Linked DNA regions of Homo sapiens. The protein of the gene in region 4 purifies or fractionates together with the protein of the main gene of each other region. This does not show direct contact. Each region holds a gene or a part of one and is shown on either strand. Other genes may lie near its edges. The genes, in order: DDR1, PPP3R1, GOSR1, TMEM200A, AXL, ACVR1B and FHOD1.

Region 1 (4,311 bases), about 100 Mb from region 4:
TTCTTCCTGGTAGTGCTTTTGTGTACTTGTCTGGTTGGGACTTCGTGTTTCTTTCTTGGGATTGTTGTCTGGGACTGCAAGCAGGGTATGTTTTTATCTACTGTGAGGTTCCTGGGGCGGAGATGTGCAGTGGAGCGAGAACTTCCTGTGACCGTGACATTGTCTAGGTGGTGAGCAGGTGTGGGGGTGTGGAGAGAGGTGAGGGGCTGAGGTAGTGCTGAGTGGGGAAAAAGCACCTCCCACCACAAGCTGTTCTGTCCCGCTCCATCCTCTGCCCAGTAGCTCTCTCAGTTGCTTTGCCTACTCAGTCTCACTGTTTCATCTTCCCTGGGTCTCTTGGTCCCCTTCCTTTTGACTGTGTGTGATTTTCAGTGTGCCTCCATCCTTCTCCTGCTCCTCTTCTTCCTCCTCCCGACCACTCAACTTTGTCCTGGCCTCATTTTTGGCCTCTTCTGGCCAGTGATCAGACCCTCTGGCCCACTACGGCCAGAGCTGGCTGGGCCTGAGGGAGGCTTGCCCTGAGGACTCCTGAGTCCCCCTCCCACTCCACTCCGTTGGGAGCCCAGGGGAATCAGGGCCTGGGCGTCTGGACCCCCGGGTCCCTTAGAACGCCCTTCAGAGAGAGGAACTGAGAGGAGAAGGAGAAGAGAGTGGGCCCGCCTTCAGGGTCTGGGGCCTTCCAGGTTGGGTCGTAGGGGCGGGAGCGCACAGGCTGCGAGAGAGGAGCAAAGGTTGGTGGAGGGAGAAGAGCAGTCTGGGGCCTGGCTGGACAGGTGAGCCCTGAGACCTGAGCTCTGCTCCCTTCTCTGGGCTAACTCCCGCAGCTGGGCTGGGCCGAGCCTGTGGGAACCTGCTTCTTCCTCTGTGCCCTGGGGCTGCTCCCCTTTGCCTCTCCCACCAGGAACCGATCCCAGAAGTAGGAGGGGCGTCTTCCCCTCGTGGGCCCTGAGCGGGACTGCAGCCAGCCCCCTGGGGCGCCAGCTTTGGAGGTTCTCGTTTGGGGAAGCGGGGGTGGGCTGCGAGTGGGTGGAGGGGGCTGGGCGCGGAGCCGGCCGGAGGCAGCGGCGCGGGCGGCTGGGCGGCCTGGGAGCGCCCAGGCGGGCTTGGCGGGCGGGTTACCTGGGGGAGGCCGGGCCGGGCGCTAGCGCGCGGGGTGGGCGTGGCGGGCGCGGGGCCTGGAGCTCGGCGCCGGGCGTGGGAGCCACTGGGACTACTGGGTCCGGGAGGGGGAAGGGAGGGCTGCGAGCCCGAACGCGCGGCGAGAAGGCCGAGGGGAGGGAGGGGAGCGAGGAGCGGGAGGAGGAAGGGAGGGAGCCGAGGCGAGGGGGAGGCGGCGCCTGGGCCCGAGCCGCCCCAGCCCTGGCTCCTCTCCCCGGAACAGGCCCCCGACAGCTGCTCTCGGGAGCCGCCTCCCGACACCCGAGCCCCGCCGGCGCCTCCCGCTCCCGGCTCCCGGCTCCTGGCTCCCTCCGCCTCCCCCGCCCCTCGCCCCGCCGCCGAAGAGGCCCCGCTCCCGGGTCGGACGCCTGGGTCTGCCGGGAAGAGCGATGAGAGGTAGGGAGAGCGGCGGCGGAACCCGCGGGCGGAGGCCTGGGGCTCTTGGGGTGGGGGCGCGCGGCGGCGCCTGCAGGGCGAGGGGCGGGGGAGGCAGGACGTCCCGAGCCATGCTTGGTCGTCCAGCTCTTCTAAGCCTCCCTGCCCGCCTCCCCGATGCTCTGGCATACCGTCTGAAAACCGGGGGCGGGGACTGGGTGGAGGTGAAGCCCGTGACCTCCCAGAAAGAGTTTTGAGCCTCCAGCCTTGAGGCAAGTCCCCTCTCACTCAGTGCGGAGGAACTGAGCCCCGGGAGGAGGTGCTCCTGTGCAGCCCCACTGAGTCAGCTCATCTATCGCCTGCCCTCCACCTGGCCAGTCCCTGCGGGCATCTAACTGCTAAGCCTCCGCTCAGCCAACACCCAGTTGGTCAGTCTGGTCACAGTCCAGCAAAAAGAGGGACTGCCACTCTAACCCACCAGTGACACCACTCTTCCCGGCTGGATGGTCAATTAGCTCTGGCATGAGAGAATGTCACTGCCGGTGAGCGCCAGCTTCAGGGTCCCACCCCCCCATGCCTGGCTCTTGGCTGAACATTTCTTCCCAGCGCTTCCAGCAGCCAGAGGCAGGCGCCCAAGCTCGCTGGCTGTTGCTGAGGGCCTGTAGGTGTGTCCAGGACTGAGTGGTGTGGTGGAGACAGGTGAAAGGGGAGTGAGTGGAAAGGCAGGGAAAGGCTGTTGTCCTTATTGCCACTCTTCCCACCCAGCGCCCACCTGTTCCCTGCCCCCTCGACGTCCCTCTGGCTTGGTCACCCATGTGTGTTAGAGGCTGGGCCCCAGTTCTCTGGGGATCCTGTGCCCAAGGGCCCGGGTGTGTGTGTCTCATGCTGTCTTTTGGTCACAGGAGCATGTGGTGTCTGTCATTTCATGTTCACAGGTGTCTGAAGGTGGCTATTCACTGAGCGATGGGGTTGGACTTGAAGGAATGCCAAGGTGTGGACGGGTTGATGTATGCATGAGCTTCTGTGTTTGCTCTGTCTCAGAAACTCTGTGAGGGTTGTCAGGGACACTGAGAGGTGGGTGTGTGCATGCCACATTTAGCCTCGCTGTTTACAGCCAGTTCAGTAAGTTTGTGTGTTTCACCGTGTGTGTGTGTACAGAGCTGTGTGGGTGTTGTCTGAGTGGGACTTGGGGGTTGGGAGAGGAGCGTGAAGGGCTTGAGGCAGGGTGGCCTGGCCCCTGGTTTGTCTTTGGTTGTAATGGAGTGGAAGGGGGTGGGATTGGGGAAGGTCTTCTGGGCTTGTCCTCTCTTGCCCTCTGGGTCTCTGACTGTGGACTGAAGACCCAGTGGAGAGAGATGAGGTGACTGGGGGTGTTGGAGAACAGACAGCCCAGACGTCTCTGTGCTTCTCCGTGTTCCTCTGCTTGGCTCTGTGCCCCGTGTTTCTGAGCCTGCTCTATTTACCTCTTGCATTGTGGCTCTCGCTCTGTCTCCGCCTGCCTCGTATCCTCTGCCTGCCTTTGTATCTCTGCCCCGGGCTCCTCTCGGCTCTGTGTGGCTCTGATGACTCATCTGGGATAGGCATGAAGGTTACTTAGGGGAACAAGAGCCCCGCTGTTCCCGAGAGAGGTGGGGTTGGAGAGCGGCACCCAGGAATTCCAAGCCAGTCTCCTGGGACTCTGGCAGCCTGCTCCCCGGCGCTGGACCCTAAGGGACCAGGCGTGATGCCTTCTGGTTCTAGCCTCTGAGTGCCCCCCACAACTCAGTCGTCCCCCTCAGCTGCTGCTTCAGAGCTCTGGGGTCTCAGCTGCCTCTTACATTCCTGCCCTAGTGCATTGTGGGAGCAGCTGGAGGAGGACAAAGGGATGGGGGAGTATCCCCCACTCCTCCTACCTCCTGGGGTGACCTGCCTTCCTTGTCTTTAGACCCGCCCTCGTCTCCAAGGCAACTCAGCCTTTCCTCAGTCCCTCAGAGGCAGCCACCTTCTGGAAGTGGGAACTGGGGGGACTGGATGTCTGGGTCTCAGGAAGGCAGAGCAGGGATAACTGGGCCCAAGATGCCCTGAACCTGATAAGAGGTGGCAGTCGAGTCCCTCAGGACTCCAGGGCCTGGAGACTTCAGTACAGGGCTCTGAGACCAGTACAGGTTAGGATAGCTTTTCCTGCAGCAGGGGAGGGGAGAGTAGTTACTTGGGTTTGTAAGGAGATGCCATTTAGAATAGTTTTATGTGGGGTAAGCTTCCTGGGCCTGAGGAACAGAGTAGGGATTTTCAAACTTTAATGGGCACAGGTCACCTGGGAATTGTGTTAAAAGGCAGATTTTGATTGAGCAGGTCAAGGGTGAGCCTGAGATTCTGATTTCTTCCATGCTTCCAGGTATTGCTGATGGTCCAGGGACCACCCTGGGCCTAGAGGGCTATAGGGGACAGTAAGACTAGAAGGTGCTGGGGTCCCCTCTGCCCTTCTCTTAGAATTCTGGACTCCTATGTGGGAGGGCAGCAGGGTGAGCTGGTCCAGGCTTATCTGATGTTTAATTCTATCATATCCTCAACAAGGAATTGCCCAACCTTTCCTGGGACATATTTATTTTTTAAAAGTCAAAATGATTTTCATATTCTTTTACATATCTTATGATTTTACATAAATGCATTTATGTTACAAGATTTAGAAAAATAGTACAATCAACCTGTCTTTTTAAATTTGCTTTTCTTTTGCCCCGTTCATGTTAACTCTTGTTATATTGTATTCTATTGTTATATTCTATTATATATTCTCTCCTT
Region 2 (3,864 bases), on a different chromosome or scaffold from region 4:
TGAAAGATATTTTTGCTGGATATAAAAACTGATAGTTTTTTTTTTTTAAACACTTTAAACAGATTCCATTGTTTCCTGTCCTTGGTGTATCTAAGGAGAAATATGCTGTAGTAATTATGTTGTATGTATGTAGTTTATCTTTTTTCCCCTCTGATTATATTTAAGATTTTCTGTGTCACAGCAATTTATTATGTGGCTTTTTTTTTTCCATGTTTCTTCTACTTAGAGTTCATTGAACTTCTTGAATTTGGGGATTTAAAGTTTTCATCAAATTTGGAAGATTTGGGGCCATTATTTCTTTAAACAGCATATAAAACGTTTTATTGATGTGAAATTCACATAACAAAGTCATTTTAAAAGTGAACAGTTCAGTGACATTTGTTTATTTATTTATTTACAAAGTCTTGCTTGGTTGCCCAGGCTGGAGTGCAGTGGTGTGCTCAAGGCTCACTGCACCCTTGACCTATCAGGCTCAAGCAGTTATCCCATATCACCCTCCTGAGTAGCCGAGACTACAGGCATATGCTAACATGCCTGGCTCGTGTTTTTGTTTTTATTTTTGAGGTGGAGTCTCGCTCTGTTGCCCAGGCTGGAGTGCAGTGGTGCAATCTCTGCTCACTGCAGCCTCCACCTTCAGGTTCAAGAGATTCTCTTGCCTCAGCCTCTCGAGTAGCTGGGATTACAGGCACCCGCCACCATGCCCAGCTAATTTTTGTATTTTTTGTAGAGACAGATTTCACCATGTTGACCAGGCTGGTCTTGAACTCCTGACCTCAAGTGATCTGCCTGCCTCGGCCTCCCAATGTGGTGGGATTACAGGCGTGAGCCACCATGCCTGGCCTTTTTTGTATTTTTTGTAGAGACAGTGTTTTGCCATGTTGCCCAGGCTGGCATTTATAATGTAGTACAACCACCACCTCTATGTCATTCGAAAATATTTTCATCACCCTAAAAGGAAACCCCATAGCCAAAAAGTAATTGTTCACCATTCCTCCTCCCCCAGCAACTGGCACCCACCAGTCTCTACATTCTGTTTCTGTGTAACTGGCACCCACCAGTCTCTACATTTTGTTTCTGTGTATTTTCTTTATCAGTATATTTCATATAAATGGAATCATAAAATGTGGCCTTTTGTTTTTGGCTTCTTTTACTTACCATGATTTTGAAGTTCATCCATTTTATAGCGTCCTATTATGTTTTATATTGGATGTCATACATACATTGTGAATCTTATGCTGTTGTGCTAGATTTTGTTTTATTCCTTTAAAGAACGTAAGAGTTTGTTTTGCCATCCACTTAAGTTACTGAGACCCAAATTTGATCTGAGATTTGTTTTCTATCTTTCTTAAGGTAAGTAAAGAACAGCCTTTAATTCATGGCCAATATAGTCGTTCTGAGGACTGGACCCAATTCCCTGTGTATTTACAAGTTTCTCCAGTTTGGCCCATGGGATCATGAACTATTCCTAGCTCTGTGCAAACTCCCAAAAGTTATTCAACCTGCTACTAGTTCTTTTCCTGGACTTGGGGAGTTTCCTCTCAAACTTATGCAGAGACTGGAGGAGACTTTTATGCAGATCTCCAAAGTTCTCTCATGTGTCTCCCTTTTCTGAAGTACTCTTCCTCACAAGTCTCACCTCCTTGGCCATACGAACTTCATGTATCTCTGACTTCTCAATTTGGCGATGTCTCGGGATTGTGTTTCTGTTCTCTGTTCCTGTGCTGCAACCTGGAAACTTTCTCCAGACAGTAAGCTGGGACATAGATCCTAAGGGCTTTACCTCTTTTGTTTTCTTATATAGATGATCACAGAAAATGCCTGATAAATGTTGTTTGATAAAATTTTTCTGATTTACTAGTTTTTTTTAACACTGGTCAAGTGGTTCATATAGCATTTCTCCCCCATGGGCAGATGTTACTGAATTTTTAAATCAGTATAGTGTAAGGGGAGTCTATCTTGAACTTCAGGCAAATGGATTTATTTAAGGACCTCATCAACAAGTGATCTTGTCAGTAACTTGGTCATGTGGCATGATGTTTGAATTCTTCAAGTGTTCTTATGTAAACTTAAAACATGTTAGCTTTAGGACTTTTTTCATATTTAGATATAATTTTATGGTTTTGTTTAGTTGAGTGGTTCTCTTAGAAGTAAATGTCAGTACCTTATTGGGTATGTCTCTCACAGTATCTATCATTATTTTAGTATTTCCCAACCCTAGACTGGAGCTATTGGCTACAAATTCACTGCAGAATTAATTTACCTTCAGAAATGCTATTTTTTCCAGTTAAGTCTGATATAATAATTTACAAACTGATGTGTATTTTTTGTTAAATGTAATTATGCATTAGGTTCAGGGATCAATAAACTATAGCCCACACACCAAACCTGAATGAAACAATTACTGATAAATGTAATACTCCCAGGTAGTAGCTTAAGAAGCTGAACGTGAGGGGGTGTGGAGAGGAGTATAAAGGGGAATCTCCAAAACTCCTGTTTTTACTAATGACTAAGCATGAGGAAGACTGAACGTGGAACAAAATTATATTGACCATATTGACAAAATTATCTTTATATTGCCATGTTTTGCTTTGGTTTCCTTTTTTAAATGGAAGGTAGACTATGAAGACATTCTTGCTGTGAAAGTTCAAACAATACAGAATTTGAAGTAAAAAGTGGGGAGTGTAGGATAGAGATGGTGGTGCTGTTTGGGAGAGTGACTACAGAGATACGAGTTCTCTTAATTAAAGGACTTTACTTAGCTTTCTAAAGAGTGTTGGTTTTTATTCTGAAGGCAGGTGGGAGCTATTGAATTTTAGCAGAGATGTGATGTGGTCAGTTTGGGACAGATTGTGGTTGCAGTAGTGTTTTGGATATATGCATTCCAAGTTTAGGAGCAAGACGAGTTATTCTTTGTTAATGGGAAAGTCCTTAGGAGCCCTGGACTGGTTGGTTCTTAGGTCTTGTGGACGTTGTCTAGTTGGGAATGATACAGATAAATAGGTGAGATAGATGGTATCATTTAGAAAGAATTGATAACACTGTAAAGGTCAGTGAACTGGAGAAACAAGGACCTGGTTTTAAAATCCTGCTTGAAACCACCACATAACACTTTTTTACCTTCACTTATAAAACAGTAATGATACTTATTTAAAAAAAAAAAAACTCACAGTGACAGTGCAAATTTTAGTAAATAAAATACCGGTATGCTCTTGAGAGTCTTGCAAGAAACATACTTAACTTTAAGGTGGAGTGGAATAAGGAAAAAAAAACATTAAAAAAATTAAGACAGCAAGAATATGTAAGGCAGTGAAGATAAGAATCATGGTAAGAATATTAAGATCAATTAAGTAATGTGCAAAGTAAGCAGAAATCCATCTCTGTTCATTAATATCAAGCTTTATTAATGTTTGCTTTCTTTTATCCTCACTTTAACATATTTGATATTTAAAGTGACCTAATATTAAATTAACCAGTTCTGGAAAATTGCAATTATCTGCTATAACTTGCAAGAAAAAGACTAGCTATTGGCAATATGTCAGTTAATTGAATGTGGTAATTTACTGATTAGCCTTTAAGTTTACATAAGATTAAAGGTACGTTGAGGAGTTTAAAAGCCAGCCAGTCATACTAAAAAAAAGAATTCAGGTTTTCAGTAGCTTCTGAAGATATATATTTAAATATGCCCATGTTAATTGTACACTTAAATTAATAGCAACTGTATACTTACTGCTATTTAATTGCTAGGCAGGGTCAAGGTTAGATAAATAGAATATAGGATGCTTCGTATTCAATTTACCACTGAACTTTAAAAACTTAATTTATATTACTTTAAATTCTGTAGACGTTTTTAAAGACCTTAATGAT
Region 3 (4,467 bases), on a different chromosome or scaffold from region 4:
AACTTACCAGTTAATGTTATAAGAAAGAAGCCATTATTCTTTTGAAAGGGATTTTGCTTTTTATGTTCCAAAGCTTTATTAGGCTTATGAACTTCTTTTCATAATAGCAAAATGACTTACCTTTTTTTTTCTTTTTTTTTTTGAGATGGAGTCTCGTTCTGTCACCCAGGCTGGAGTGCAGTGGCATGACCTTGGCTCACTGCATACTCCACCTCCTGGGTTCAAGCAACTCTCATGCCTCAACTACCTCCCAAGTAGCTGGGACTACAGGCACACACCACCATGCCTGGCTAATTTTTGTATTTTTAGTAAAGACGGGGTTTCACCATGTTGGCCAGGGTGGTCTTTAACTCCTGACCTCAAGTGATCCACCCACCTTGGCCTCCCAAAGTGCTAGGATTACAGGTGTGAGCCACCACGCCCGGACCAAAATGACTTCTCAATTGAACATAAAGAAAAAAAGTTACCACAAAAATTGCCTTTTTCTTTCTTTTTTTCTTTTCTGTTTTTTCTCACAATGTTGCCCAGGCTGCTCTCGAACTCCTAAACTCCAGTGACCCTCCTGCCTGGGCCTCCAAAAGTGCTAGAATTACAGGCATGAGACATCGCACCTGGCCAAAAACCGCCTTTAAAAAACTTACTGAGGCCAGGCGCAGTGGCTCACGCCTGTAATCCCAGCACTTTGGGAGGCCGAGGCAGGCGGATCATGAGGTCAGGAGATCAAGACCATCCTAGCTAACACGGTGAAACCCTGTCTCTATTAAAAATACAAAAAATTAGCCAGGCGTGGTGGTGGGCGCCTGTAGTCCCAGCTACTCAGGAGGCTGAGGCAGGAGAATGGCGTGAACCTGGAAGGCACTGGAAGGCAGAGTTTGCAGTGAGTGGAGATTGAGCCACTGCACTCCAGCCTGGGCGACAGTGCGAGACTCCATCTAAAAAAAAGAAAAAAACTTACTGAAAGTAATTTGGAGGGCTAAAACTAACAATAAACAATGTGCTACTAACAAGGTCGAATATGAGTATGATAGAAATAAGTACATAAGTTTTAATAGCAGAAGCAAACAGGCAAGTAGAGAAATTGGTTTAGCAGTCTGGCATCTAAGGGTTGCGTGACAGAAGCCACAGTCTGGACACCCACACACAGATACGAGTATTCTCATTCATGGTGAAGTGAAGGTTAAAATAAAAGGGCAGAAGTACCAGAGGTAATGGTATAAGAATCTCTCTTTCAAAAAGAATACAAAACATTATTTCAATATGCTTTTCAACCAGAAATAGAAAGCGTAGTTAACATAGTGGAGCATATTTGCCCAGAGACCAAATGCCAGTTCGAATCTCGGCACAGCCACTTACTGACTCTATGATTTATCAACAATCTACTTAACCTATGAACTTCAGCTTCTTGTTTTTTAAACCCCTACCTTCAGGGTTTGCTTATGTATTGGTAATCATATGCTTACAGCAGCTGGCACAGAGTAGGTTGTCAGTAATGAGCCGCTGTAATATTATAGCATGCTGCTTCAAAAAACCACAGGCTAATGACTAGTAATAAAGATATCAGTAGCCTCTTCTACATAATTTTAAAATGTTTTCTAGCGGCCAGGCGCGGTGGGTCACACCTGTAATCCCAGCACTTTGGGAGGCAGAGGCGGGCGGATCACGAGGTCAGGAGATCAAGAACATCCTGGCCAACATGGTGAAACCCCGTCTCTACTAAAAATACAAAAATTAGCCAGGCGTGGTGGCATGCATCTGTAGTCCCAGCTACTAAGGAGGCTGAGACAGGAGAATCGCTTGAACGCAGGAGGCGGAGGCTGCAGTGAGCCGAGATCGATAGCGCCACCGCACTCCAGCCTGGGCGACATAGCGAGTCTCCAAAAAAAAAAAAAAAAAAGTTTTCTAGCTGGTACACACATTTCAAATGGGCATTGTAATACATGTTTTAAACTATAAGCACGCTTTTCTGTGATTGGAATAATTGTCTTCTCTAGTAGGAAACATAAGTAAAAGCATTTTGAAAGTATGATAGGCAAATCTGGATAAATTTAGAATTGAGTTTCTTAGACCAAGGGGCTGATAGTGACAATACTGTGGTTTCTAGAGGCTTCAGTGTATAGCAATAAAAACAGGTCAAAGGAATTTGGAAAGTAGTTTCTATGCGGCTGTAAAGCAAAGAGACAGTTGGGAGAAAAAGGTGAGCTTTCTCTGCTCTTGTTGATCATCATAATCCACGAATGAGTTTTATGTAAGCTCACTTTATCCGACTATAGTTTCAGGAATTAAACAAATGCATTTGTCAAATCACAGGAAGGTTTTTTTGGTGGGAGAAGTATAGCAAATGTAACTGCAATTCACACAGGTTCTCTCAACTTTTTCAATAAAACCGATTCTAGACTCTAGAGCAGAAGGGTAAGTTATTTTCTCCTCCTTCAAACACCCAGTCCTGGAAGTCCCCAACCTGTAGTTGTCATGGAGACCCAATAAGAGACATTCTGTCTCCTATTCTCTTCATACTTCCTCCGACGGACCGGAATGCAAGTTCCTCCTTCTCTTTTCCCACTCAGTTTTCCAATAGTGACCTCAGCTCCAATGCGCTGACTCCTCCAGTCTCCGGGGCTCTGGATCTTCTCCCTCAACATTCGTTTCCTCTCAGAGTTCGTACCCCAAGCCCCTTCGTCCGAGTTCCATTACTCCCTCAACACAATTCTACCCAGGCGATTGAGAGCCCTCTTCCTCTACATCCCCGCTCTGTCCACTCTGCCCAACCCCTGCCCCACGTCCCGCTCACACGCCCCGGCCAGGCCAGACCCCTACCCCAGACCGTTCGGTATCCCCAAGGCCCCGGGGATCCCACTTAGGCAAGCCCCGCTGCTCAGCTCGGCCGCTCCGGGAGTCTGGTTCTTTCCTGTGCTGCTTCTCCCAAGATCTGTCCTCACTCAGCCCCTCTCACCCTCGTAGGACGCACCCGGAGGCCTTCTCGCCCTCACCTTCCCAGTAACTGCTGGTCCCTGCCGCCATCTTTGTCGTCCAACGTCAGCCGGGATAGGGGAGCAGAGGCGATGCAGGCCGGAAAGTCACCATGGTGCGTGTTTCCGCCTTGAGAGCCAGGGCCGACGGGATGCGAGCCTCCGCGGACACTGCCACCTGCTGATCAATTCGTTATCTTACAGCTTTTAAGTAGCGAGAGAGAAAAAACTTCGGCTTTAGCTCCTGTCTTTCATTCCCGCTTTCTGCGCCCCAAACCATCATCATCTCCCTCATCTCGGCTTATCCTTTCTCTCAGCAGGTGCCTACTTGACTGGGAGGAGAATCATCCTCAGGCAACTCCCTCAATTTCCCTCACCTTGTCTCTAATTTGTATCTTCAGCCAATTTCTTCCTTTCTCAGACATAGAGACCCTTTCTTCCCAGAGCCATTTCCTTCATCCTACCTCCCCGCCTGTGCTCCATCATCCACGTTCTTTGGCGTATGCGCTCTTCTCCACTGGCTGCTTTCCTTGTCTACAGCAGTTCTAGTCCCAGCCCTCTTTGTCCTTGTCAGCCGCCACATCTAGAAAGAGTGAGCTAACTGCTTCTACATGCTCTCGGCCTGAGCCCTCAACCTGATAAAATCTGCTGTCCAAACCCACACTTTATAGATACATAAATTATCACAGTCTACCGGTGCTGACTTAATTCTAGTGAAGTGTAGAAACCTTAATTCCTGTAAAGTTCTTTCCCCCACTCATTTATAATATAGTTGTTTTTAAGTATTTCCTCTGCATTCATTGAGGAGAACCACATCAGTGTTACAATATTTGCTTCAAGGGTCAGGCATAAGTTAGAGAATTCAAGAGAAGAGGAAAGCTTACTTGATTTATGCATATTTTACTCTTCTTCGTTCCTAGTGTCCCAAGATTCCTTTTTCTAATCGTTTCCTTTCTGTTTCAAGAATTTCCCTCAGCCATTTTTTTTTTAAAGAGTAGATCAGCTGGTGACAAATTCTATTAGTTTTTCTTCATCTGAGAATGTCTTGATTTCCCTTCATTCTTGGGGGATCGGATATTGTTGCCAGATATACAATCTGAAGTTGACAATTTCTTTCTTCAGCACTTGAAAAATGTGCCAATTCCTTCTGGCCTCCATAGTTTCAGATAAGAAATTGACTAAAATTGGAATTGTTTTTCCACTGTAGCTAAAATACATTTTCTCTCTCACTGCTTTCAAGAACTGTTCTTTAGTTTTCAGAAGTTATGATGTGCCTTGGTGTAGATTTCTTTGGATTTATCCTGTTTGGGATATCCTCAGCTTCTTGATTCTGACATTTATGTCTTCTGCCAAATTTGGGGGATTCTCAACCATTGTTTCTTCCAATACTTTTTCTGTCTCATACTGTTTCTCTTCTTTTTCTGGGAGTCTGATGACGTGAATGCTAGATCTTGTGTTAATGTCCCACATAGCTCTGAAGTTATGCTAATTTTTTTTCAGT
Region 4 (2,640 bases):
AGTAAAACAGAATGGGAGCTCCTGTGCCTCGAGATTGGCAGCAAATACGATCGCCTCTTTCTCGGGTTTTCGGAGCAGTTTTCGAATGGACAGCTCCGTGGAGGAGGATGAACTTATGTTAAATGAAGGTAAGAGTTCTGGGCATCTTATGCCCCCTTTGCTCTCTGACAGCTCTGTGTCTGTCTTTGGCCTCTATCCACCTCCTTCCAAGACAACTGATGATAAGACCAGCGGCTCTAAGAAATGTGAAACCAAGTCAATTGTGTCATCGTCCATCAGTGCTTTTACATTGCCTGTGATCAAACTTAATAACTGTGTTATTGATGAGCCCAGTATAGATAACATCACTGAAGATGCTGACAACCTCAAAAGTAGGTCAAGGAATTTGTCAATGGATTCCCTTGTGGTTCCTTTGCCCAACACCAGTGAATCCTTCCAGCCCGTCAGCACAGTGCTACCAAGGAATAATTCCATTGGGGAGTCGTTGTCGAGTCAGTACAAGTCATCTATGGCTCTCGGACCTGGGGCTGGACAGCTCTTGTCTCCTGGGGCTGCCAGAAGACAGTTTGGGTCCAATACATCCTTGCATTTGCTCTCGTCACACTCAAAGTCCTTGGACTTAGACCGGGGTCCCTCCACTCTAACTGTTCAGGCAGAACAACGGAAACATCCAAGTTGGCCTAGGTTGGATCGGAACAACAGCAAGGGATATATGAAACTAGAGAACAAAGAAGACCCGATGGATAGGTTGCTTGTGCCCCAAGTTGCCATCAAAAAGGACTTTACCAATAAGGAGAAGCTTCTTATGATTTCAAGATCTCACAATAATTTGAGTTTTGAACATGATGAGTTTTTGAGTAACAACCTAAAGAGGGGAACTTCTGAAACAAGGTTTTAATGTTAAAAGAATATATCATTTTACAAGGGTATATATTTTAAAACGATTTTCACTGGTGTTTCCTTCTTAAAGTATTGGCTGTAAGCCTTTTTAATCAAATGGTTTGTAGTGTATTAGAATTGGCTGCTTAGTTCTGTAATGAAGATGGTTGTATGTTTGGGTTACTTGTGACTGCAGTACTCTATGTTACCACACATGATTTTATTTTTCTCTTCCTTTGAAAGCATGATCTCTTTTATTAATATGAATGCAAAATGCTTGCATCCAAATTAAAGCTTATTTTCTTTACTTTTAAGTTCTTTGATTGCCCTATTCATAAAATGAAATGTCCAGTATGGAAAACATAGGGTACCAAAGTGTGGACCAGGAGTACAAATTCAGTCCCAATACTCAATACGTATTATAGATGACTATGAGTGCAAACCTTAGGATGTGATTTTCTGAATAATTGTTCTTTGTAGGATTTGGTTACATTATTTAAAATGAAAAAGATCTAGTTTTAGTGTGAGCTCAGTAATGTTAATTGGTTAAGTTCATTGTGAATCTTGAGTTTTAGATAAGTAGTTATTTTTTTCAATATCACTTCTGTTTTTAGTGATATTATATCAAGAAACAACGTATTCAAGAGCCATGGCTGACAGTGCCAGATATACTTAGGGATAAACATCAAAATGCAATTATAGTTGCTATAACGTTAGATACTCGGAATCAAAATTTATTTGCAAGCTGACTTGATAAACTAAATGAACCAATAAAATTTGTAGAAATGCTATCCTGAAATAATTATATACATGAAGACAATGTTGACTAATGAATTAAGATACATTATATACTAGTTAATGCTAACTAGTCTCAGTACCTGTTTTTAGCCATCTGTTACTGTCCAATAGCACCTCATTCCCACATTCTATTTTCCCCCGGTATTCTTTAGATCCTAGTATTTGGAAAACAATCGGCTAACCTTGACATTTCTTTTTACCTTCATATGCCACTATCTCGGTAGTTCAAAAAAATTTAGTTCTTGATAAATTGCCTTGAAGTTTACCTTGTGCTGGAGAGCCTTATGATAACTCCAAAGACTTTCTTACGGTATAATACATGTTGTTTAGGATTGTGTTTCTTAGTCACTGAAGATAATAAATATTAAAATGGATGTTTTCATCAGAAAATTTTCATGTTTTCCTTTAAGGTAACATAATTGTAAGAATTGTTTAATAAAATACTCAGGAAATTCTAAAGGTTTCTCCCAATACCTAAACATTTCTGAACATCAGTATTGCAGTTGTGGAAGAGCAGAAGGAGGATACATTTGTTTGTGTTGCTCCCCAAAATTCCACCTTGCATTTGCATCACAAACTTCCCTCAATTGAGGCAGTTTTCTTTGTTAGAACATTAAGTCTGTGTATTGTAATAGAGTGGGCTCAATATTTTACTATAAAGCATTTAATAAACTGTTATTAATAGAAGTTTGTGTTCTTCACACCTTTGCTATTGCTTTTTAAATAAAATGTACATTTCTGCTTAAAGTACTGTTTTTCACACTTTCAGATATATTCTACTGAGGGCACTTGATACCCTAGTACATGTACTGAGTATCTCGGCTTTTAAATTTTGCTTCTATTCGGTTAAAGAGCTAGGTCTATCCACCTATTTAATTAGACTGTTTTTAAATTTTCTTATCTTGGGATCGTTTTCACTTAAAGTTTCATTGACTCTCAGGAAAATAACCAAATACAGCAAAA
Region 5 (3,864 bases), on a different chromosome or scaffold from region 4:
AGAACATAGGCAATCAAGTCCAAGAGGAAGGCTGGAGCAAGTTTATAGGACCTTGCAGGCCATGGAGAGGGGTTGGGTTGAATTGTCAGGGCCATGGGAAACCACTGCGGGCAGAGCTAGGCTTGCACAGAGGGATGGAGGGAGGAGGGATCGCATCAAGGACTCTGTTGACCTCTCCTCCCACCTGCCTTGGCTCCCCAGTACCTGCCCACTCAGATGCTAGTGAAGTTCATGGCAGACATCGCCAGTGGCATGGAGTATCTGAGTACCAAGAGATTCATACACCGGGACCTGGCGGCCAGGAACTGCATGTGAGTGCCTTTCAGGGACCCCCCCCCCCCAACTGCTCCTGCACTCCCTGAGGGAGTTCCCTCCCTCCTTCTTAGGATGGAAGCAGGGCTAGACACCCGCTGAGGGCAGGTCAGAACTCAGGACCAGGAAAGTCAGTAAGGGGGTCTGGGAAGGCTTCCTGGAGGAGGTGAGTCCTGAACTGAGATCTGGAAGGAGCATTTGGATGCGGAGAGGGAAGAGACCAGAAGGTGGGCTCAGTGCACAGCATGAGGTGAGCAAAGGGGCTGAGGTGACCGATGGGGGTGGGGACACGTGAGCTGCATCTCTGTCCCACTCCATGCTGGGTGTCTTGCCTGGGGCTGCCCTTTGGAAGCGGCCACACTGGATAAGAAAATCAAACTCCCCACCAATGGACAAGCAGAAAATATGCCAGATGGGGTGCAGTGGCTCACGCCTGTAATCCCAGCACTTTGGGAGTCCGAGGCGGGTGGATCACTTGAGGCCAGGAGTTCGAGACCAGCCTTGGTGAAACCCCCTGTCTACTAAAAGTACAAAATTCAGCCTGGTGCGGTGGTGTGCGCCTGTAATCCCAACACGAGAATTGCTTGAACCCAGGAGGCGGAGGTTGCAATGAGCCGAGATCGCATCACTGCACTCCAGCCTGGGCGACAGAGCAAGACTCTGTCTCAAAAAAAAAAAAAAAAAGAAAGAAAGAAAGAAAGAAAGAAAAAAGAAAATAGTAACCTGTAGTCCCAGCCATTCCCAAGGCTTAGGTGAGAGGATTGCTTGAGCCTCGAGACCAGCCTGGGTAACAACAACGAGACACCATCTCAAAAAAAAAGAAAAAAAGAAAAGAAAGAACAAAAAATCCCCCAAAAGCCAGAATAGAGGGTAAGGGGAGGGTAGAAGGTGGAGGGAATGGAACCACAGAGTTAGAATATTAGTCTTGGCCAGGCGCAGTGGCTCACATCTATAATCCCAGCCCTTTGGGAGGCTGAGGCAGGAGGATCACTTGTACCCAGGAGTTCAAGACCAGCCTGGGCAACATAGTGAATCCTGTCTTTACAAAAAATAAATTAGCTGGGCATGGTGGTGTATACCTGTGGTTCCAGCTACTTGGGAGGCTGAGGTGGAAGGATTGCTAGAGCCCAGGAGGTTGAGGCTGAAGTCAGCCATGATGGTATCACTTCACTACTGCCTGGGCAACAGGGCAAGATCCCATCTAAAAAAAAATTGATGTATATTTTACATACACTAAAATATACACATGCAGCTCAGCTCGATGAATTTTTATGGGTATAGACCCATGTAACCACTAGATGAAGGTAAAGAATATTTCTTAGCCCCAGCAGGCTCCTTCATGCCTCTTCGTCTTCCCAATCACTACCGCCAAGTGGTACCCACTATCCTGACTTCTCAGTGCTAGTTTAGCCTGTTCTGAAAAGTCATACAAATGGGATCATGCAGTTTGTACTGCTTTGTGTCTGGCTTCTATGGCTCAGCATGATGTTTTTGAGATGGATCTGTGTAGGGGTAGTTTGCTCTTTTTCTTTGCTGTGTGGTATGGTATTCCATCATATGAATGTCCTGTGGATTTTCTTTTCTTTTTTTCTCTTTCTTTCTTTTTCTTTCTTTTCTTTCTTTTTCTCTCTGTCCTTTCTTCTTTCTTTTCTTTCTCTTTCTCTCTCTTTATCTCCTTCCTTCCTTCCTTCCCTCCCTCCCTCTCTCTTTCCCTTTCTTTCCCTTTTTTTCTTTCTTTTCTTTTTTGTTTTGACAGAGTCTTACTCTGTCCTTTAGGGTGGGGTGCAGTGGCATGATCATAGCTCACTGTAGCCTCCAACTCCTGGCTCAAGCTATCCTTCTGCCTCAGCCTCCTAAGTAGCTGGAACTACAGACATGTGCCACCATGTCCAGCTAATTTTTAAATTTTTTTGTAGAGACAGGGTCTTGCTTTGTTTTCCAGGCTGGTCTTGAACTCCTAGCCTCAAGTGATCCTCCCACCTTGGCCTCCCAAGGTGCTGAAATTACAGGCTTGAGCCACTGTGCCTGTTTTTTTTTTTGTTTGTTTTTGAGACGGAGTCTCACTCACTCTGTTGCCCAGGCTGGAGTGCAGTGGCGTGATCTCAGCTCACTGCAACCTCCGCCTACTGGGTTCAACTGATTCTCTTGCTTCAGCCTCCCAGGTAGCTGGGATTTCAGATGTGCACCAACACACCTGGCTAATTTTTGTACTTTTAGTAGAGACAGAGTTTCACCACATTGGCCAGGCTGGTCTCAAACTCCTGACCTCAAGTGATCCACCTGCCTTGGCCTCCCAGAGTGCTGGGATTACAGGCGCCAGCCACCATGCCCAGCCATGTTCTGTTTCTTAATCTGGGTGCTGGTTACATGGGTGTGTGTGTGTGTGTGTGTGAAAATTCAGTGAGCTGCTTACTTATGACTTGTGCACATTTCCATATGTACAGTATACTTCAAGAAAAAAAAATTTCATCAAGGAATCAAACCCAAGGAAGGACCTTAGAATCTAGCAAAGAGCCAAAATTGGGAAGTCCTGAGGAAGCCCTTTGTCCCATCCTCACTTGACAGAGTGAACAAGAAGTAAAGCAGTTCCCTTCTGGACTGGGATGAAGGTTTAGGAGACAGATCCCCACCCGCAGCCAGGACAGTGAGGGGAGGAGGTGCAGATGTGTCTGAGAGCCAGGGCAGGCTTCCTGGTGGAGGTGACTGATGCCCTGACCCTGTTCCTTTCCCCAATCCAAACAGGCTGAATGAGAACATGTCCGTGTGTGTGGCGGACTTCGGGCTCTCCAAGAAGATCTACAATGGGGACTACTACCGCCAGGGACGTATCGCCAAGATGCCAGTCAAGTGGATTGCCATTGAGAGTCTAGCTGACCGTGTCTACACCAGCAAGAGCGATGTGGTAGGTGCACTCCCGCCAAGAGTGGGGAACCATGGGAGGGCATGGCCTGACCATCACACACTATGCCTGGGTGGCTGTGGATGCAAGGGTCACAGGGACATGTGGGCTTCCCTTTGCAGGGGCTTGTCCACATGGGCTGGGCATGTCTTGGGGTATGGTGGGCATCTCTGAATAGTGGTGTGTACATGCCCAGGATAAATACAGGCCCACGTGTGCATGGTAGCAATGTAGACAGTTTAGGTTAGAAGAAGCTGCAGTGATTATGCGTGCATGTGCGCACACTCATAGAATGTGGACAGCCAGGGTGTGCAGAGTGGCACATGAGCTCATGTGTCCATGAAGTGTGTATATGTGTGTGATGGTGAGCATGTGTATGCATCCACAAAAGTTACTTATTCATGTGTATACCCGTGTCAAGTATTTTTTATATATATATATTTTTCTTTTTTTGAGATGGAGTCTCGCACTGTCACCCAGGCTGCAGTGCAATGGCATGATCTCAGCTCACTGCAGACTCTGCCTCCCGGGTTCAAGCAATTCTCCTGCCTCAGTCTCCCGAGTAGCTGGGATTACAGGCGCCCACCACCATGCCTAGCTAATTTTTGTATTTTTAGTAGAGACGGGGTTTCACTATATTGGCCAGGCTGGTC
Region 6 (3,864 bases), on a different chromosome or scaffold from region 4:
TGTGTGTGTAGTGAGAGCAGTTGAGACCTACTGTTAGCACATTTCAGGTGTACAGTATTGTTGACTCTAGTCACCTTGCCGTCCATTAGAGCCCCAGAACTTACCTAGTCAAGTAGAGAGGTTGGCTCTGCCTTTAACGAGTCTAACCACTAGAGGGCATTTCTGCATTTCAGAACAGAATTGCATATTAGCTGATGCTTTCGTGTTGCATCATAGAGCAGCACTTCTCACCGCACTCCTTGGAACCCTCAGGGCAGGGTTTGCTTCAGAGGGCAGGTGAGACCAAAAGAGCTGGCCGTTAGCTGCAGCGTTTGCCTTTCACTTGTGTAAGCTGTCCCTTAAAAAGGAAGAGCCGCCTGGCGCGGTGGCTCATGCCTGTAATCCCAGCACTTTGGGAGGCCGAGGTGGGCAGATCACAAGGTCGAGAGAGCGAGACCATCCTGGCCAACCAATATGGTAAAACCCCATCTCTACTAAAAATACAAAAATCAGCTGGGCGTAGTGGTGTGTGCCTGTAGTCCCAGCTACTGGGGAGGCTGAGACAGGAGAATCACTTGAACCCGGGAGGCGGAGGTTGCGGTGAGCCAAGATTGCGCCACTGCACTCCAGCCTGGGTGACAGAGTGAGACTCCTTCTAAAAAAAAAAAAAAAAAAAAAAAAAAAAAAAAAAAAAAAGGAAGAGCCAGGGAACAAAGGGAGCCTTGCAGAGCATTTCCCTAAGGTCGGCCGCCGGGTGGATGTGGATCTGCCAGACTGCACTGAGCGGGAGGTGGCAGGGAAATGAGTGAGAGCCTAGGGACCAGAAAGGCTTCTCCAGGGCATGACCGAGCTGATGGCTCCTGGGTCTCTGCACAGGCACTGCGGGTGATGGGGAAGATGATGCGAGAGTGTTGGTATGCCAACGGCGCAGCCCGCCTGACGGCCCTGCGCATCAAGAAGACCCTCTCCCAGCTCAGCGTGCAGGAAGACGTGAAGATCTAACTGCTCCCTCTCTCCACACGGAGCTCCTGGCAGCGAGAACTACGCACAGCTGCCGCGTTGAGCGTACGATGGAGGCCTACCTCTCGTTTCTGCCCAGCCCTCTGTGGCCAGGAGCCCTGGCCCGCAAGAGGGACAGAGCCCGGGAGAGACTCGCTCACTCCCATGTTGGGTTTGAGACAGACACCTTTTCTATTTACCTCCTAATGGCATGGAGACTCTGAGAGCGAATTGTGTGGAGAACTCAGTGCCACACCTCGAACTGGTTGTAGTGGGAAGTCCCGCGAAACCCGGTGCATCTGGCACGTGGCCAGGAGCCATGACAGGGGCGCTTGGGAGGGGCCGGAGGAACCGAGGTGTTGCCAGTGCTAAGCTGCCCTGAGGGTTTCCTTCGGGGACCAGCCCACAGCACACCAAGGTGGCCCGGAAGAACCAGAAGTGCAGCCCCTCTCACAGGCAGCTCTGAGCCGCGCTTTCCCCTCCTCCCTGGGATGGACGCTGCCGGGAGACTGCCAGTGGAGACGGAATCTGCCGCTTTGTCTGTCCAGCCGTGTGTGCATGTGCCGAGGTGCGTCCCCCGTTGTGCCTGGTTCGTGCCATGCCCTTACACGTGCGTGTGAGTGTGTGTGTGTGTCTGTAGGTGCGCACTTACCTGCTTGAGCTTTCTGTGCATGTGCAGGTCGGGGGTGTGGTCGTCATGCTGTCCGTGCTTGCTGGTGCCTCTTTTCAGTAGTGAGCAGCATCTAGTTTCCCTGGTGCCCTTCCCTGGAGGTCTCTCCCTCCCCCAGAGCCCCTCATGCCACAGTGGTACTCTGTGTCTGGCAGGCTACTCTGCCCACCCCAGCATCAGCACAGCTCTCCTCCTCCATCTCAGACTGTGGAACCAAAGCTGGCCCAGTTGTCCATGACAAAAGAGGCTTTTGGGCCAAAATGTGAGGGTGGTGGGTGGGATGGGCAGGGAAGGAATCCTGGTGGAAGTCTTGGGTGTTAGTGTCAGCCATGGGAAATGAGCCAGCCCAAGGGCATCATCCTCAGCAGCATCGAGGAAGGGCCGAGGAATGTGAAGCCAGATCTCGGGACTCAGATTGGAATGTTACATCTGTCTTTCATCTCCCAGATCCTGGAAACAGCAGTGTATATTTTTGGTGGTGGTGGGTTTGGGGTGGGGAAGGGAAGGGCGGGCAAGGAGTGGGGAGGGAGTCTGGGGTGGGAGGGAGGCATCTGCATGGGTCTTCTTTTACTGGACTGTCTGATCAGGGTGGAGGGAAGGTGAGAGGTTTGCATCCACTTCAGGAGCCCTACTGAAGGGAACAGCCTGAGCCGAACATGTTATTTAACCTGAGTATAGTATTTAACGAAGCCTAGAAGCACGGCTGTGGGTGGTGATTTGGTCAGCATATCTTAGGTATATAATAACTTTGAAGCCATAACTTTTAACTGGAGTGGTTTGATTTCTTTTTTTAATTTTATTGGGAGGGTTTGGATTTTAACTTTTTTTAATGTTGTTAAATATTAAGTTTTTGTAAAAGGAAAACCATCTCTGTGATTACCTCTCAATCTATTTGTTTTTAAAGAAATCCCTAAAAAAAAAAATTATCCAATTGAACGCACATAGCTCAATCACACTGGAAATGTTTGTCCTTGCACCTGAGCCTGTTCCCACTCAGCAGTGAGAGTTCCTCTTTGCCCTGAGGCTCAGTCTCTCTCGTATTTTGTCCCCACCCCCAATTCCTTGAGTGGTTTTTGCTCTAGGGCCCTTTCTTGCACTGTCCAGCTGGTTGTACCCTCTCCAGGCATTTATTCAACAAATGTGGGTGAAGTGCCTGCTGGGTGCCAGGTGCTGGGAATACATCTGTGGACAAGACATGCTTGGGTCCTACTCCTGGAGCACTGTAAAAAGAGCTGATTCAAGTAAGTAGATGCCTGTTTTGAGACCAGAAGGTTTCATAATTGGTTCTACGACCCTTTTGAGCCTAGAATTATTGTTCTTATATAAGATCACTGAAGAAAGAGGAACCCCCACAACCCCCTCCACAAAGAGACCAGGGGCGGGTGATGAGACCTGGGGTTTAGAACCCCAGGTGAGACCTCAAATCACTGCATTCATTCTGAGCCCCCTTCCTGTCCCCAGGGGAGGTGTATTGTGTATGTAGCCTTAGAGCATCTCTGCCTCCAACCCAGCAGTTCTCTGCCAAAGCTTGTGGAGGAGGGAGAGCCCTGTCCCTGCCCTCAGGCTCCCCAGTGCTCCTGGCCCTTCTATTTATTTGACTGATTATTGCTTCTTTCCTTGCATTAAAGGAGATCTTCCCCTAACCTTTGGGCCAATTTACTGGCCACTAATTTCGTTTAAATACCATTGTGTCATTGGGGGGACCGTCTTTACCCCTGCTGACCTCCCACCTATCCGCCCTGCAGCAGAACCTTGGCGGTTTATAGGTAATGATGGAACTTAGACTCCTCTTCCCAGAGTCACAAGTAGCCTCTGGGATCTGCCAACACACGTCCACTCCCAAGCCACTAGCCCACTCCCCAGTTGGCCCTTCTGCCCTTACCCCACACACAGTCCAACTCTTCCACCTCTGGGGAAGATGGAGCAGGTCTTTGGGAAGCTCCCACACCCACCTCTGCCACTCTTAACACTAAGTGAGAGTTGGGGAGAAACTGAAGCCGTGTTTTTGGCCCCCCGAGGCTAACCCTGATCCATAGTGCTACCTGCACCTCTGGATTCTGGATTCACAGACCAAGTCCAAGCCCGTTCTTACGTCGCCATAAAGGCCCCCGAACGGCATTCTCGGTACTTCTGTTTGTTTTTGTACATTTTATTAGAAAGGACTGTAAAATAGCCACTTAGACACTTTACCTCTTCAGTATGCAAATGTAAATAAA
Region 7 (4,408 bases), on a different chromosome or scaffold from region 4:
CCCCCAAACCTCCCCAAAACCGCCCCCACCAGATCCAGAGCGGTGCGCGGCCACGGCCCCCCTGGGGCAGCCCGCAGCGGGAAGGGCGGGGGTCTGCGGGGGGCGCGGTCAGGACGGGAGGGGCACGGCTCCTCCTCGGCCAGCGCTGCTGTGCGGCGAGCAGCACCCCCCTGGGACCAAGGCGCGGCCGGGTGCAAAACGCAGGGGACCGTGCTTGGCCGCCCTCCGCCCACGTTGCCAAGCCCAGGACCCCCTGCCGGCCCCCACCCGGACCTGAGCTGCGCACGCGCACTGGACGCTCCCCAAAGCAGTGACGGACAACGCTGCCCCCAACGTCCCAGAAACCCTAAGGCCCAGACTGGCCCAGCTCGTGCCAGGCGAAGAGGGAGGCTGTTCTTCATCTCCCAAACCAAGGGGCACCTGGCCCTCCCTTTCAGTCACACTACAGAGAACTGTCTCATCTCTTTGATGAAGCTGACAGGAACCTATGGAAAACCCAGCCTACTGATTCCCTTCAAACTAGGCGAGATGCACCCAACTTTTTCCAAATCTGAGGGGCATTCGGCTCATAGCGCCCCAAACAGAGGAGGACCGTCTCCACTTTTCATTCAGGCTGAGGGGCACCCATCCCACTTTTTCTCCAAAACTGAGGGGAACGTGTTCTATCTGCCCCCTCAAACTGACTCCTCCCAATCTTTTCCCAGAAAACTGAAGGGCATCCTTCCCTCTTCCTCCCACAACTAAAGGGAACTGATCCCACCTCTTCCTTCAAACTGGGTGGAATTTATTCTCACTTCTTGCTCCAAATTGAAGGGACCCCCTCTCACTGCTTTCCCTAAATGAGGAAACCACAGGGACTCACCCCTCAAATGGAAGGAATGAGGGCTATCTTGTCCCTCAACTGAGAGAGACCTGGCCGGCCACTATCTAAAGAAACTTCTGCCCCATCTGCCCTAACACCCCTCAAAGAGAACGCAGCCTCACTATCCCCAGACCAAAGAAAGCCTCCCCGCCTTCTGCGCGTTCTCGAAGGTGGGGCGCGAGCTCGGTTTTTCCCGCCCTCCTAGCCAGTGAACTAACGGGATTCCCATTGGGCCCTGTGAGTGGCTAGCGGCGGCCCCGCCTCCGGCAGTGGTTACCTCCTGGCGCGCACTCGGGGACTAATCTTGGCTCCACCCCCTTCCTCGGCCCCGCCTCCGTCTGGCCCCGCCCCTCCAGCCGCGTCCGGTCCGGCCGGGCCCGAACCGCGGAGCTACAGTGTGCTTTGAGTAGAAGCTGCACTGGGGCCGGGACTCGGAGGCGCGCTGCGTGAGCCGGCCGCAGAGCCATGGCGGGCGGGGAAGACCGCGGGGACGGAGAGCCGGTATCAGTGGTGACCGTGAGGGTGCAGTACCTGGAAGACACCGACCCCTTCGCATGTGCCAACTTTCCGGAGCCGCGCCGGGCCCCCACCTGCAGCCTGGACGGGGCGCTGCCCTTGGGCGCGCAGATACCCGCGGTGCACCGCCTGCTGGGAGCGCCGCTCAAGGTGAGGGAGGCCGGAGAAAGGTTGGGGCGATCGGGGGTTCAGGGTGGGCGCCATGAAAACTGGTGGGAGGTGCTCCGCGGGAAGAGGCTGGAGCGAGTGTTCTTCTCCGGAAAAGTCTTGGGCTGGGGTCCCAGGGTCCACTCTGCCCCGCCTGCGGGGGAGTCCCCTCTCAAGTTGAGGGGAAACTGAAGAGGGGTGCCAGGAACTTGGCTCCGCCATTCTGACTGCCCTTCGAATTAGGCGCACCTGGGGAGGTGCTCGAGTTCCACTCGCCGTCGGTCTGCCAGGGTGGCTTCCCTGGTCAGAGTGACGGTAGCCGCTTGGGCTGTAGCGGACCCTGGAGGCGGAGCTGGGGAGGGACCAGCTTCCACCTGCTTCAGGTGAGGTGGGGGCGGGACCACGAGGAGGGGCGGGCCCGAGGCGGACTACTAGAGGTGGCAGAGGTTTCCTGCGGTGTCAGGAAGCTGGATTGGGGCTTGACCCTGTAGGTCAATGGGAGTATGGGAGTGCCGGCCGAGGAGAGACTTCACGGGGTGAGGGGAGTCCCCGCGAAGCGGTCTGGCCCGGGATCCGCAGAGCGCAGGAGGCTGCACGGGTGTAAAAGCCCTTTGAGTCACCGCTCCCGCCCCCACCCCCGGACACTCGCCGCCCATCGGCCCGCGCCTGAAAGTGAGAGGGAGGGCCGGACTAATTTTAAACAGCCGGCCTGCCCTACTTTGCTGCCGCCCCGAAGCGGACTTGTGCACAGTGCGGAAAGAGGCCCTTTTCCAGATGGCCAGCCTACCTCCTCTCCCCTCCCTCTCGCCGCCGTCAGCCCCCCGCAGGCAGCCCTTTCCGGCGCGCTGTTTCCGGGCCAGGACTCTGGGAGGCGCACTACCACCTCCACAAGCTCCCCACCAGCCCGGCCGCCTCCAGTGCTGGAGAAGAGGAGAGAGAGTCGGGGTGGGTGCCCTCCCCTGCTCCCAGCCTCAGCTGGGCGGCGAGTTGCGTAAACTTGCCCCTTGGGCCTGGGGTCTTCCCTGGAATGTGCCCCGGGCCCCCAGCCCGCATTCCTCGCGCTGCGGCCAGCCCCGCCTCTGAGCGCTGGCGGGAGGGGTGGTGAGACTATTGGCCTGGAGAGTGGCACGTGTCCAGGCCAGAACCCCGGCTTCAAGGCCATGGCTGGAAGGATGCAGGACACTGCTCACCGCCAGTTTTGACTCAGCCCCCGCTTCTCTTGCCCTATTCAGAGGGGCAAATTGAGGTGTGCCTGGAAGAAGCGTGTGCAGCTGGAGGCCACCTCCCATTCAGGATGGGGGCTGGGAAGACAGGAGTGCTGAACTAAGACTGGTTCCCGCTTCCAGGCTCCTAAAGTCCGGATCCTGAAATAAGGGTGGGGCACTAGAGAATATATTGTATTCCTCTCATCCTGCAACTCAAGGATTGGACCTAGCCCTGACACCACCCCCCCGATTTTTTTTTTTTTAAGACGGATTCTGGCTCTGTCTCCCAGGCTGGAGTACAGTGGGGCTATCTTGGCTCACTGCAACCTCCACCTCCCGGGTTCTAGCAATTCTCGTGCCTCAGCCTTCCAAATAGCTGGGATTACAGGTGTGCGCCACCATACTCAGGTAATTTTTGTATTTTTAGTAGGGACAGGGTTTCTCCGTGTTGGCCAGCCTGGTCTCAAACTCCTGACCTCAGGTGATCTGCCTGCCTAAGCCTCCCAAAGTGCTGGGATTAAGGCTTGAGCCACCATGCCCAGCCCCTTGACACACCTCTTCCCAGCTGGGGGCAAGCCTGGGAAGTCAGCTGCAAGAAAGAGGCTCAGAACCACTCCTTCTATCTCCCTCTCATGGGACCCGTGTCCCCACCCAACCCTACCAGGTGCTCTGCCCTGTGTTCCCTGCTCCTTAGCTGAGGACACTACTGAGCTCCGGTGAAGAATATAAGTTCCTCATCCCCAATGCAGTCCTTCCTGGTCTCCCCGATTTCATGTTCTCCCACCTGGAGTACCTGAGGACTGCCTTCCCTCCCCCACAGGGATATGGAGGTGGCACACTAGGTTACCACAATGCCAGAAGCCAGGATTCCCTGGGGCTAGCAACTCTGCCAGGAATGGTCAGATGCACTGTGATGTGCTCAACCCAAATATAAACTATGACCACAGCCCCAGAATAGAAGGCTGGAGGAAGAGGGGCTGAGAATAGGGCAGAGACAGGGACATCAGAGAGCTGAGCAAGGGGGAGCAGGGCCCCTCCTTGCAGGAAATGTCAACAGCTGGTTCCTCCCGTAGTCCTATAAGTGGGTGCCCCAGAGTCACAGACATGACTCAGGCCTGTCTTGCTGGCCCTCTAGAGGGAAGAGGTGGCCCAGAAACCAGGGCATCCCTGTCCCAAGCTGTAGGGCAGAAATAAGAGGAAGGGGTTCTTTACTCATTGCTTCGTCCTATGTACAGTTGTCCAGCAGAGGACAGGACACAGCCAAGTGGCCTCTGTCCTCCTCTGGGTACTGGCCCCGGGTACTGGCCCTGATCATCCCAGCAGATGACCCCCCTCCCTGGGGATGTACAGAGGCCAGCCTGCTTTCTCCCTGGGACTCCACCCACACACCCCATTGGGCCGAGCCTAGCCCCTAGAGTTCCCCTGGGGGCTTCCTTTTTAAAGAGCTTTCAGATCTCAGAAAGCCTTGCTCATTTCCTCCTAGACTAGGAGGAAGCTCCTGGCCACAGCCTCTGACTCATCTCCTGGCCCTGGTTGGTGGAAGGGAGCTTGACAGTGTCTTGGGCCGGGCCTAGTGTCCCTGGGGGAACTCAGGAGTGCCTTCCTCCCCTCCAAAATATTCCCCCAGCCCAGACCTGCCTTTGCCAGAGGGGAGAATGTGTCCCTCTGGCCTTGCATC

Evidence for each region.
Region 1: the proteins of TMEM200A (region 4) and DDR1 purify together in Homo sapiens (affinity purification with mass spectrometry; one large-scale study listed by BioGRID and IntAct). This does not show direct contact.
Region 2: the proteins of TMEM200A (region 4) and PPP3R1 purify together in Homo sapiens (co-immunoprecipitation; 3 studies listed by BioGRID and IntAct, with this or other methods). This does not show direct contact.
Region 3: the proteins of TMEM200A (region 4) and GOSR1 purify together in Homo sapiens (affinity purification with mass spectrometry; 2 studies listed by BioGRID and IntAct, with this or other methods). This does not show direct contact.
Region 5: the proteins of TMEM200A (region 4) and AXL purify together in Homo sapiens (affinity purification with mass spectrometry; one large-scale study listed by BioGRID and IntAct). This does not show direct contact.
Region 6: the proteins of TMEM200A (region 4) and ACVR1B purify together in Homo sapiens (affinity purification with mass spectrometry; one large-scale study listed by BioGRID and IntAct). This does not show direct contact.
Region 7: the proteins of TMEM200A (region 4) and FHOD1 purify together in Homo sapiens (affinity purification with mass spectrometry; 2 studies listed by BioGRID and IntAct, with this or other methods). This does not show direct contact.

What each region holds. Positions count from the first base shown.
Region 1 is NC_000006.12:30,883,157-30,887,467, forward strand, and holds the start of DDR1 (epithelial discoidin domain-containing receptor 1 isoform 2 precursor), read left to right. Parts: upstream 1-1,362; 5' UTR 1,363-1,554; intron 1,555-1,823; exon of another isoform or gene 1,824-2,063; coding exon of another isoform or gene 2,064-2,075; intron 2,076-2,127; exon of another isoform or gene 2,128-2,232; intron 2,233-2,468; exon of another isoform or gene 2,469-2,524; intron 2,525-4,311. UniProt on the Homo sapiens protein: Tyrosine kinase that functions as a cell surface receptor for fibrillar collagen and regulates cell attachment to the extracellular matrix, remodeling of the extracellular matrix, cell migration, differentiation, survival and cell proliferation.
Region 2 is NC_000002.12:68,218,027-68,221,890, reverse strand, and holds part of PPP3R1 (calcineurin subunit B type 1), read left to right. Parts: intron 1-3,864. UniProt on the Homo sapiens protein: Regulatory subunit of calcineurin, a calcium-dependent, calmodulin stimulated protein phosphatase. Confers calcium sensitivity.
Region 3 is NC_000017.11:30,475,985-30,480,451, reverse strand, and holds the start of GOSR1 (Golgi SNAP receptor complex member 1), read right to left. Parts: upstream 3,045-4,467; 5' UTR 3,019-3,044; coding exon 2,988-3,018; exon of another isoform or gene 2,640-2,987; coding exon of another isoform or gene 2,459-2,639; intron 1-2,458. UniProt on the Homo sapiens protein: Involved in transport from the ER to the Golgi apparatus as well as in intra-Golgi transport. It belongs to a super-family of proteins called t-SNAREs or soluble NSF (N-ethylmaleimide-sensitive factor) attachment protein receptor.
Region 4 is NC_000006.12:130,441,001-130,443,640, forward strand, and holds the end of TMEM200A (transmembrane protein 200A), read left to right. Parts: coding exon 1-898; 3' UTR 899-2,067; downstream 2,068-2,640.
Region 5 is NC_000019.10:41,253,398-41,257,261, forward strand, and holds part of AXL (tyrosine-protein kinase receptor UFO isoform 1 precursor), read left to right. Parts: intron 1-201; coding exon 202-311; intron 312-3,054; coding exon 3,055-3,214; intron 3,215-3,864. UniProt on the Homo sapiens protein: Receptor tyrosine kinase that transduces signals from the extracellular matrix into the cytoplasm by binding growth factor GAS6 and which is thus regulating many physiological processes including cell survival, cell proliferation, migration and differentiation.
Region 6 is NC_000012.12:51,993,130-51,996,993, forward strand, and holds part of ACVR1B (activin receptor type-1B isoform a precursor), read left to right. Parts: intron 1-855; coding exon 856-981; 3' UTR 982-3,864. UniProt on the Homo sapiens protein: Transmembrane serine/threonine kinase activin type-1 receptor forming an activin receptor complex with activin receptor type-2 (ACVR2A or ACVR2B).
Region 7 is NC_000016.10:67,244,330-67,248,737, reverse strand, and holds the start of FHOD1 (FH1/FH2 domain-containing protein 1), read left to right. Parts: upstream 1-1,256; 5' UTR 1,257-1,327; coding exon 1,328-1,528; exon of another isoform or gene 1,529-2,299; coding exon of another isoform or gene 2,300-2,470; exon of another isoform or gene 2,471-2,900; intron 2,901-2,996; exon of another isoform or gene 2,997-3,138; intron 3,139-4,408. UniProt on the Homo sapiens protein: Required for the assembly of F-actin structures, such as stress fibers. Depends on the Rho-ROCK cascade for its activity. Contributes to the coordination of microtubules with actin fibers and plays a role in cell elongation.